Homo sapiens: one gene and its partner. The protein of the gene in region 1 purifies or fractionates together with the protein of each later gene. This does not show direct contact. Each region holds a gene or a part of one and is shown on either strand. Other genes may lie near its edges.

What was found. The genes of interacting proteins can lie anywhere in the genome.
Region 2: the proteins of TIPIN (region 1) and GINS1 purify together in Homo sapiens (affinity purification with mass spectrometry; 3 studies listed by BioGRID and IntAct, with this or other methods). This does not show direct contact.

What each region holds. Positions count from the first base shown.
Region 1 is NC_000015.10:66,335,691-66,339,685, forward strand, and holds the end of TIPIN (TIMELESS-interacting protein), read right to left. Parts: intron 1,492-3,995; coding exon 1,268-1,491; 3' UTR 501-1,267; downstream 1-500.
Region 2 is NC_000020.11:25,424,673-25,431,727, reverse strand, and holds part of GINS1 (DNA replication complex GINS protein PSF1), read right to left. Parts: intron 6,518-7,055; coding exon 6,401-6,517; intron 1-6,400. UniProt on the Homo sapiens protein: Required for correct functioning of the GINS complex, a complex that plays an essential role in the initiation of DNA replication, and progression of DNA replication forks.

The sequences.
Region 1 (3,995 bases):
CTGTGGGTAGGGGTGAGGGGGTGGGGTGGGAGAGCCTTTCCTAACACTAACCTTTCTTATTTGTAACTACCCCCTCTACCTGGCAGGAAGAACTCCAATCAGGTGTTCTCACGATTTGGCCCTAACACATCTAACCTCAAAATCAGCATTCCTAAAATCTGCCTTATCCCCTTAATCTTATTTCTGTATCATTATTGTACATGTGCTTCCCAATACTTGGAATCTCCTCCACCAAAAGCAAAGTCTTTCCTGTAAATCCTCCCGAGATGCTATGTTCCCCACGATACTTTGCAAGTTTCACTCCAACTAGTCAGTAAGTTCCCAAAAAGCATTCTTTGAACTACCCTAGCACCTATGAGGGCCAGGCAATGTATCGGCCTTTCATGTGACCTTTTAACTATTAAAGTAACTCCTTAGAAAACATGTAAAAATCTTGTATTTACCAAAAGTGTAAACTGCAGAACTATATAGCAATGAAAACCTCCCATAAAGCCTGTAGATAGTTTTTAAGATAATTTTTACTTCTTTTAAAAAATTGACATTAATATTCAGTATATATGTACATCTCAAAACTTCACCCAGGCTGGGCGCGGTGGCTCACACCTGTAATCCCAGCACTTTGGGAGGCCGAGGGGGGCGGATTACCTGAGGTTAGGAGTTTGAGACCAGCCTGGCCAACATGGTGAAACCTCATCTCTACTAAAAGTACAAAAATTAGCCAAGCGTGGTGGCACACGCCTGTAGTCCCAGCTACTCGGGAGGCTAAGGCAGGAGAATTGCTTGAGCCCAGGAGGCAGAGGTTGCAGTGAGCCAAGACTGTGCCACTGCACTCCAGCCTGGCCAACAGAGTGAGACTCTGTGTCAAAAAAAACAAAACAAAACAAAACAAAAAACTTCAACTAGACTACTCTGGGCACACTGTCCATGGATTAGCCCTGCTTTGCAAGGAGCAGTAAAAAACAGAAACAAAACCTCCCAACTTAGTGAAAACAAGGCATTCAATGACAGACCAGCAGCAGAAACTGCTTATTACCTCCTAATCATTTTATGAAGAAATACCTATATAAAAACAAACACTAAAGAGAACAAATAGATTTAACTAAAGTGACAAGCATAATTATAAATAAATACCAGATTATCAGATTTTAAACAATAATCTATAACAGTTTTACTATCTAAGGATTTTCACTCCAAGAAGAAAAAATACATAGTAACGCCAAGCTTGCAGGACGATGACTTAACAGATACATTTTCTCTTAATGGAAACTTATCTAGCTTCAGTAATATTTCTGGATGTAGCATCAAGTTGCTGTTGCACATTTTTAAAAGACTGGTCCAGCAGTGTTTCCTCTTCATTTAAAGTATTGGCAATAGCATCATTACATGGATTGTCCAGAATGTCTTCGTTTAATCCATTTGACTCCTCCTTTTGATCCTCATCAGTATTAACCTCTTCAACCGTGTGTGCCCTGGGTGTATTCATTAACATATCTGAAAGAAATCATACCATTATTATTCATTATAAGTACCTGATCCAATCTTACCGCATGAGTACAAACCTCTTCAAAAGCTCAGTTTAGTAAAATGAAGTCTAAGATCACTTAATGTTAATTATGATCACTTTCTTCTAAATATATCTTTTTTTTTTTTTTTGAGATGGAGTCTCGCTCCATCACTTTGGCTGGAGTGCAATCGCACGATCTGGGCTCACTGCAACCTCCACCGGGTTCAAGTGATTCTCCTGCCTCAGCCTCCCGAGTAGCTGGGATTACAGGTACCCGCCACTACACCCGGCTAATTTTGGTATTTTTAGAAGAGACAGGGTTTCACTATGTTGGCCAGGCTGGTCTCGAACTCCTGACCTCAGGTGATCCACCCGCCTCAGGCTCCCAAAGTCCTGGGATTACAGGCGTGAGCTACCACGCCTAGCCAATAAGCCCATTTTTATACAATTAAGATCCATTTTAAATGCAAGAGAGGCCAGGCCCGATCCCAACAATGTGGGAGGATCATTGGAGCTCAGGAGTTCAGGACCAGCCTGGGCCACATAGTGAGACCCCATGTCAACAAAACATCAAAAAAAATAAAATAAAAAAAAAAATAATTAGCTGGCTATGGTGGCGAACCATGATCGTGCCACTGCACTCCAGCCTGGGTGACAAAGTGAGATCCTATAACCAAAAAAAAACAAAAAAAAAGCAAAATGGTTTTGAATGTTATTCAACTCACACTCTTGGATCATAGTCAAATGTAACTGTTCTTATTCAAAATCAAACTACTATTGGCCAGGCACAGTGGATCATGCCTGTAATCTCAGCACTTTGGGAGGCTGAGGCAGGCAGATCACTCAAGGTCAGGAGTTTGAAACCAGTCTGGCCAATATGGTGAAACCCTGCCTCTACAAAAAATACAAAAATTAGCCGGACATGGTGGAGCACGCCTGTAATCCCAGCTACTCGGGAGGCTGGGACAGGAGAATCGCTTGAACCTAGGAGGCGGAGGTTGCAGTGGGCCGAGATCAGCAACTGCACTCCAGCCTGGGCAATACAGTGAGGCCCCATCTAAAAAAACAAAACTGAAAACTACTAGAAAGAGGTCTAATAAAAACCAAGTGCGTTTAGGTTTTATGTCAGAGTGATCCATAAGAAACTTTAAAGTACTTATTTCCATTTGGACAAATTTTAAGTTGTATATGATAAACAGAGGTGAGCTTTAAATACCAACTGCCAGGTATACTTGATATTGACAGCAAAGAAGCCACTGCCATCAAGAATAATGCTATCTTCATGTAATGTTTCACATGGTACTAATAAAACATCCATTTATAAAGAAAAAGTAAATTGGCCAGGTGCGGTGGCTCACACCTGTAATCCCAGCACTTTAGGAGACCGAGGTGGGTGGATCACGAGGTTAGGGGATCGAGACCATCCTGGCTGATACGGTGAAACCCTGTCTCTACTAAAAATACAAAAAATTAGCCAGGCGTGGTGGCAGGCACCTGTAGTCCCAGCTACTCGGGAGGCTGAGGCACGAGAATGGCATGGACACGGGAGGCGGGGCTTGCAGTGAGCCGAGATCACGCCATTGCACTCCAGCCTGGGTGACAGAGCAAGACTCCGTCTCAAAAAAAAAAAAAAAAAAAAAAGGAAAAAGTAAATTCAGCTGGGCATGGTGGCTCACACCTGTAATCCCAGGACTTTGGGAGGCTGAGGCAGGCAGATCACTAGGTCAGGAGTTCAAGACCACCCTGGCCAACACAGTGAAATCCCTTCTCTACTAAAAATACAAAAATTAGCCAGGCATGGGGGCACGCACTTGTAGTCCTAGCTACTTGAGGAGGCTGAAGCAGGGGAACTGCTTGAACCCGGGAGGCAGAGGTTGCAGTGAGCCAAGATCACGCCACTGCACTCCAGCCTGAGCTACAGAGCAAGACTCCATCTCAAAAAAAAAAAAAAAAAAAAAAAAAAGCAAAAAGAAAAAGTAAATTCATCTTAACTGAAAAAAAAAGTAGCCAAAATAATTTTCACTTAAAAATGTTAATATATTGGGTGAAACTTCGTTTACAACATGGTATCTAGTTATTATAATTCTTTTTTTTTTTGTAGAGACGGGGACTCACTATGTTGCCCAGGCTGGTCTTGAACTCCCAGGCTCAAGTGATCTGCCCACCTCAGCCTCCCAAAGTGCTGGGATTACAGGCAAGAGACACTGTGCTGGGCCTATAATTCTTATTTTTCCATTTTGAAAGGAAAAACTGAATGGGAAATTAAGAAAGATATACGCAATCCTGCTTACTTCATTCAAAACCAACTTGCAATTCTTTCTAAATATAGTTTTAACAAATTTGGTTATATAGTTTCCAAACCCACAATGTGTGTTAAAAACAGCAAATTTAGGCCAGGTACACTGGCTCATACCTGCAATCCCAGCACTTTGGAAGCCCAATGCTGGAGGATTGCTTGAGACTAGAAGTTCAAGGCTGCAGTGAGTCAAGA
Region 2 (7,055 bases), on another chromosome or scaffold:
GTGGTGGCGCACCCCTACAGTCCCAGCTACTCGGGAGGCTGAGGCATGGGAATCACTTGAACCCTGGAGGCGGAGGATGAAGTGAGCTGAGATTGTGACACTGCACTACAGCCTGGGTAACAGAGTGAGATCCTGTCTCAAAAAAAAAAAAAGAAAAAAGAAAAAAGGAAAAAGAAAAAGAAAAAGAAAAAAGAAACAAAAACAAAAACGAAAGAAGACAAATTTCAAGCCAACCACCTAACTTTACATCTTAAGGAACCAGAAAAAGAAAAGCAAGCTAAACCTAAAGCTAGAAGGAGGAAATAATGATTAGAGCAGACATTAATAAAATGAAGAACAGAAACACTCATAGAGAAAACCAATAAAACTAAAATTTGGTTATTTTAAAAGGTCAACAAAATTTACAAACCTTTAGCTAGACAGACTAAGAATAAAAGAAGGCTCAAATTACTAAAATCAAAAATGAAAGTGAGGACATTACTACCAATCCTACAGAAATAAAAAGAGTTCTAAGAGTCCTATGAACAATTGTACACCAACAAATTGGAAAACCTAGATGAAATGGACAAATTCCCAGAAACACAAACCTACAAAGACTGAATGATTAAGAACTAGTAAATTGGAATAGACCTATAGCTAGTAAGGGGACTCAATCACTAATCAAAAATCTCTCAATAAAGAAAACCCTAGAGCTGATGGCTTCACTGGGTAACTCTATCAAACATTTCAAGAACACCAATCCTTCTCAAACTTTTCTAAAAAATATAAAAGGAGGGAACACCTCCCTAACTCATTTTATGAGGCCAGCATTACCCTAATACCAAAGCCAGAAAAGATACTCCAAGAAAACTATAGACCAATGTCCCTTATGAACACTGATGCAAAAATTCTCAACACAGGCCAGGCATGGTGGCTCACGCCTGTAATCCCAGCACTTTGGGAGGCCAAGGCGGGAGGATCACCTGAGGTCGGGAGTTCGAGACCAGCCTGACCAACATGGAGAAACCCCATCTCTACTAAAAACACAAAATTAGCCGGGTGTGGTGGCACATGCCTGTAATCGCAGCTACTTGGGAGGCTGAGGCAGGAGAATCGCTTGAACCCAGGAGGCAGAGGTTGCGGTGAGTCAAGATCGTGCCATTGCACTCCAGCCTGGGCAACCAGACCAAAACTCCGTCTTGAAAAATAAAAATTAAAAAAATTATCACCACAATAGTATCAAATCAAATTCAGCAGCATAGTAAAAGAGTTCATCATAAATCAATTGAGATTTATTTTTGGAATGCAAGGACAGTTCAAGATATGAAAATCAATCAATATAAGTCATTAACAGAACGAAGGGAAAAAAACATGATCATTTCAATTGATACAGAAAAAGCGTTTGACAAAATTCAACTTCCTTTCATAAAAATACTCAACAAACTAGGAACAGAAGATAACTATACATCAACATAATAAAAGCCATATATGGAAACTCTACAGCAAACATCATATTCAATGGTGAAAGACTGAAAGCTGGCCAGGCACGGTGGCTCACGCCTATAATCCCAGCACTTTGGGAGGCCAAGGCGGGTGGATGATGAGGTCAGGAGTTCAAAACCAGCCTGGCCTCTATGGTAAAACCCTGTCTCTAATAAAAATACAAAAATTAGCTGGGCGTGATGGCATGTGCCTGTAGTCCTAGCTACTTAGGAGGCTGTGGCAGGAGAATCGCTTGAACCTAGGAGGCGGACGTTGAAGTGAGCTGAGATTGTGCCACTGCACTCCAACCTGGGCAACAGAGCAAGACTCTGTCTCAAAAAGAAAAAGAAAGACTGAAAGCTTTTCCTCTAAGTTCACTAAGAAGGCAAAAGATTTCTGCTTTTGCCACTTCTATTCAACATAAAACTGGAGTTACAGTCAGAGTAATTAGACAAGAAAAAGAAATAGGATTCTAAATTAAAAAGGAAAAACTAAAATTATCTGTTTGCAGATGATATGATCTTACATGTAGAAAATTTTAATGATTCCACAAAAAACTTTTAGAACTAATAAATGAATTCAGCACAGTAACAGGATGCAAAGTCAACACACAAAAATCAGTTGCATTTCTATACACTAACAACGAACAATCTGAAAATAAAAATTATGAAAATAATTCAGTTTATCAGTGCGAAAAGAATAAAATATATAGAAATTAAATTAACGAAAGAGGAGAAAGATTTGAACAATGAAAACTAAAAAACACTGCTGAAGAAAATTAAAGATGACATCAACAATTGGAAACACATCCCATGTTCATGGATTGGAAGATTTAATATTAAGATGTCAATGCACCCTAAGTGACCTACACAATCCCTACTATAATCCCAAAAGTGTCTTTTGGAGAAACAGAAAAACCCATCCCACAATCCATATAAAATCTCAAATAGTGAAAACAACCTTTAAAAAGAGGAATGGGGCCGGGCGTGGTGGCTCATGCCTGTAATCCGGCACTCTGGGAGGCTGAGGTGGGCGGATCACCTGAGGTCAGGAGTTCGAGACCAGCCTAGCCAACATGGTGAAACCCCATCTCTACTAAAACTATAAAAAATTAGCCGGGCATGGTGGTAGGCGCCTTTAGTCTCAGCTACTTGGGAGGCTGAGAAAGGAGAATCACTTGAACCCAGGAGGTGGAGGTTGCAGTGAGCCAAGAGTGCACCACTGTACTCCAGCCTGGGCGACAGAGCAAGACTTCGTTTCAAAAAAAAAAAAAAAAAAAAAAAAAAAAAAAAAAAAAGAGAGAGGAATGAAGGTGGAGGACCCAAAATCCCTAATTTAAACTTACTGCAAAGCTACAACAATCGAAATACTACAGTTCTGGCATAAAGACAGATGTATATATATATTAAAAAAACTTTTTTTACGACAGATGTACAGAACAATGGAATAGGATAAAGAGATAAAAAATAAACCCTTGCCTACATAGTCAAATGATTTTTGACAAGAGTGTCAAAACCATTCACAATGGGGAAAGGGCAGTCTTATTAAGAAATTATGCTTGGAGGCCGGGTGCGGTGGCTCACACCTGTAATCCCAGCACTTTGGGAGGCCGAGGTGGGCGGATCACAAGGTTAGGAGATCCAGACCATCCTGGCTAACACGGTGAAACCCCGTCTCTACTAAAAAATACAAAAAATTAGCTGGGCGTCGTGGTGGGCACCTGTGGTCCCAGCTACTCGGGAGGCTGAGGCAGGAGAATGGCGTGAACCCAGGAGGCAGAGCTTGCAGTGAGCCGAGATTGTGCCACTGCACTCCAGCCTGGGCGACAGACAGAGACTCTGTCTCAAAAAAAAAAAAAAAAAAAAAAAAGAAATTATGCTTGGAAAGCTAGATTTCCACATGCAAAAAAATAAAGTTGGACCATCACCTAACACCATACAAAAATTAACTTGAAATGGATCAAAGACCGAAATGCAAATGTAAAACAACATAATACTTAGAAGGAAATACAGGTCAAAAGTTTTATGACATTGTATTTAGCAATGATTTCTGGGATATGACTCCTAAGGCACAACCAACAAAACAAAAAAAATTGGCCGGGTGCGATGGCTCACGCCTGTAATCCCTGCACTTTGGGAGGCCAAGGTGGGTGGATCACCTGAAGTCAGGATTTCAAGACCAGCCTGGCCAACATGATGAAACCCTATCTCTGCTAACAATACAAAAAATTAGCTGGGTGTGGTGGTGCATGCCTGTAATCCCAGCTACTCAGGAGGCTGAGGCAGGAGAATCGCTTGAACCCAGGAAGCAGGGGTTGCAGTGAGCCGAGATCACACCACTGCATTCTAGCCTGGGCAACAAGAGCAAAATTCCATCTCAAAAAAAAAAAAAAAAAAATGACGAACTGGGCTGCATGAAAATTTTAAAATATCAACATGATACTGAAGGAAGAAAACAGAAAAAAAAGAAAAAAAAAGACACTATCAACAGCATAAAAAGGCAACCCAGAGAATGGGAGAAAATATTTGCAAATCATATATCTGATAACAAATTAACATACTGAATACATAAAGGATTTCTAAATCTCCACAACAACAAAACCCTATTTGAAAATGGGCCCCATAAAGGGGGCCAATTATTTGAATAAACATTTCTCCAAAGAAGACACAGGAATAGCTAATAAGCATATGAAAAGATGCTCAACATCACTAATCATTAGGGAAATAAAAGTCAAAACCACGTTTTACATCCTTTAGGATGGCTATGATTAAAAAACAGAACAAGGCCAGGCATGGTGACTCATGCCTTTGGGAGGCTGAGGCGGGAGGATCACCTGAGGTCAGGAGTTCAAGACCAGCCTGGCCAAAATGGTGAAACCGTGTCTCTACTAAAAATACAAAAATTAGCCAGGTGTGGTGGTGGGCACCTGTAATCCCAGCTACTTGGGAGGCTGAGGCAGGAGAATCACTTGAACCTGGGAGGTGGAGGTTGCAGTTGAGGTGAACCTGGGAGGTGGAGGTTGCAGGTTGAGCCGAGATCGCGCCACTGCATCCAGCCTGGGTGACAAGAGCAAAACTCTGTCTCAAAAACGAAACAAAATAACCCCAAAATATTTAGTGTTGGTGAGGATGTGGAGAAAATGGAACCCTTGCGTAATGTTGGAATGTAAAATGGTATGGCTGCTGTGGAAAGCAGTATGACAATTCCTCAAACATAGTATTACCATATGATCTAGTAATTCCACTCTGGATATATGCCCCCCAAAATTAAAAGCAGAGTCTCAAAGAGATTTATATATCCACGTTCATAGCAGCATTGATCATAAAATGATAGCTAAAATAAAGAAGCAACCCAGTGTCCATAGATGGATAAATGGATAAGCAAAATGTGGTATAGCCAGAAAAAGGAATATTACTCATCCTTAAAAAGGAAGGAAATTCTGGGCCAGGCGCAGTGGCTCACACCTGTAATCGCAGCACTTTGGGAGGCCGAGGAGGGAGGATCACCTGAGCTCGGGAGTTCGAGACCAGCCTGACCAACATGGAGAAACCCAGTCTCTACTAAAGATACAAAATTAGCCAGGGGTGGTGGCACATGCCTGTAATCCCAGCTGTTTGGGAGGCTGAGGCCAGAGAATCACTTGAACCCAGGAGGCGGAGGTTGCGGTGAGCCAAGATCGCACCACTAGACTCCAGCCTGGGCAACAAGAGTGAAACTCCATCTCAAAAAAAAGAAAAAAAAAATTGTGCAATGGTGCAATCTCAGCTCACCGCAACCTCCTTCTCCCCGGTTCTAGCGATTATCCTGCCTCAGCCTCCCAAGTAGCTGGGATTACAGGCATGTGCCCGGCTAATTTTGTATTTTTAGTAGAGACGGGGTTTCTCCATGTTGGTCAGGCTAGTCTTGAACTCCCGACCTCAGGTGATCCTCCTTCCTCAGCCTCCCAAAGCGCTAGGATTACAAGCATGAGCCACCGTGCCCAGCCGGAAATTCTGACACAAATTCTTACCACAGATACCACAGAAATGAACCCTGAAGATATTACGCTAAGTGAAATAAGCCAGTCACAAAAAGACAAATAACTTGTCATTTGTAGCTTCTCAGAAATTATTCTCTAACGAGAACAAAAGAAAACAAAAAGACAAATACTATATGATTCCACTCACATGAGGTAGTTACAGTAGTCAAAATCAGAGACAGACAGTAGAATGGTGGTTGCTGGGGGATGGGAGGCAGGGGTATTGAGAAGTTATTGTTTAATGGGTAGAGTTTCAGTTTTATAAGATGAAAAAAATCTGGATATGGAATGGTGGTGACAGCTGCAAAACAATATGAAAGTTGCAAAACAATATGGAATGTTAAACAATATTTAATACCACTTAAATGTACATTTAAAAATAGCTAAGATGGTAGATTTTATATGTATTTTATTATTTAAAAAATAGAAAAAATAAACAAAATGAAACAAAAATACCTCTTGTTTTGACTAATCCACCAACTTGAAAGACATTTGCTTTTTTTACTTTCAAAATTTAGCATTGATTTTCCATTTTGATTTAACTTTGTTTTGACATTTGTTTCATTTTACTTTCAAAATTTAGGGACTGATTTTCCATTTTGATTTAACTTTGTTTTGACATTTGTTTCATTTTACTTTCAAAATTTAGGGACTGATTTTCCATTTTGATTTAACTTTGTTTTAGTAATAGCTAAAACATTTATAGGGTTCCATACTCAAAACTATTAAAACAGGTATATTCAGAAAATTATAGCTGTTCCATCGTATTCTGTCATCCCCCTACAGGTAGCTTGTTTGATTTGGTCTATGCTTCTTTTCTATTTTAATAGAAGCTAACACATATTCATATACTCCTCTCTTCTTAAAAGGTAGCACAATTTACACATTAAAGAAAAATGCATTTTAAAAAGATATACATACTTCAATATATAGGCTTTTTGGTGGTTTCATATCCTGTGTAATGTCCAAACCTTCATCTCCTCCCAGTGACCTCATATAAGTAGCAAGAGATCTTTTATAATTATTAAACCACTCCATCTGCAAACATAGAGATGATCATTTGACAAAATTCTAAGAAAACTTGCACACACTGAATATCATCCATTCGAAAACAGTACACATCCCAACACAAATCACTGTTGTGACCATTCATTCATTAATGCTAAAATATTAATTGCCTCCTATGATATAGGCATTGGTCTGGGTACTTACAATGAATCATTCAATAAAGTGAACAAAAATCTCTGTTCTCAGAGAGCTTACATTTCAGCATACTTAATAATAAACCTTAGGAATCTTTGACCAGAAACAGAACCATGAAAAAGACGCCATTTCAGAATTATATCTTCAAACTCTGCATTGATGCTATTTCTGAAAACTATAAAACATTGTTAAGAAAACCCAAATGTCCACCAGCTGATGAATGGATATGTGCCCATATGATGGAACATTATTTAACCATAAGTAACAATGAAGTTCTGAAACGTATTGCCATTACCACATGAAAGACAGAAGGCCACATATTGCATGATTCTACTCATATGAAAAACCTGTAATAGGTAAATCTATAGAGACA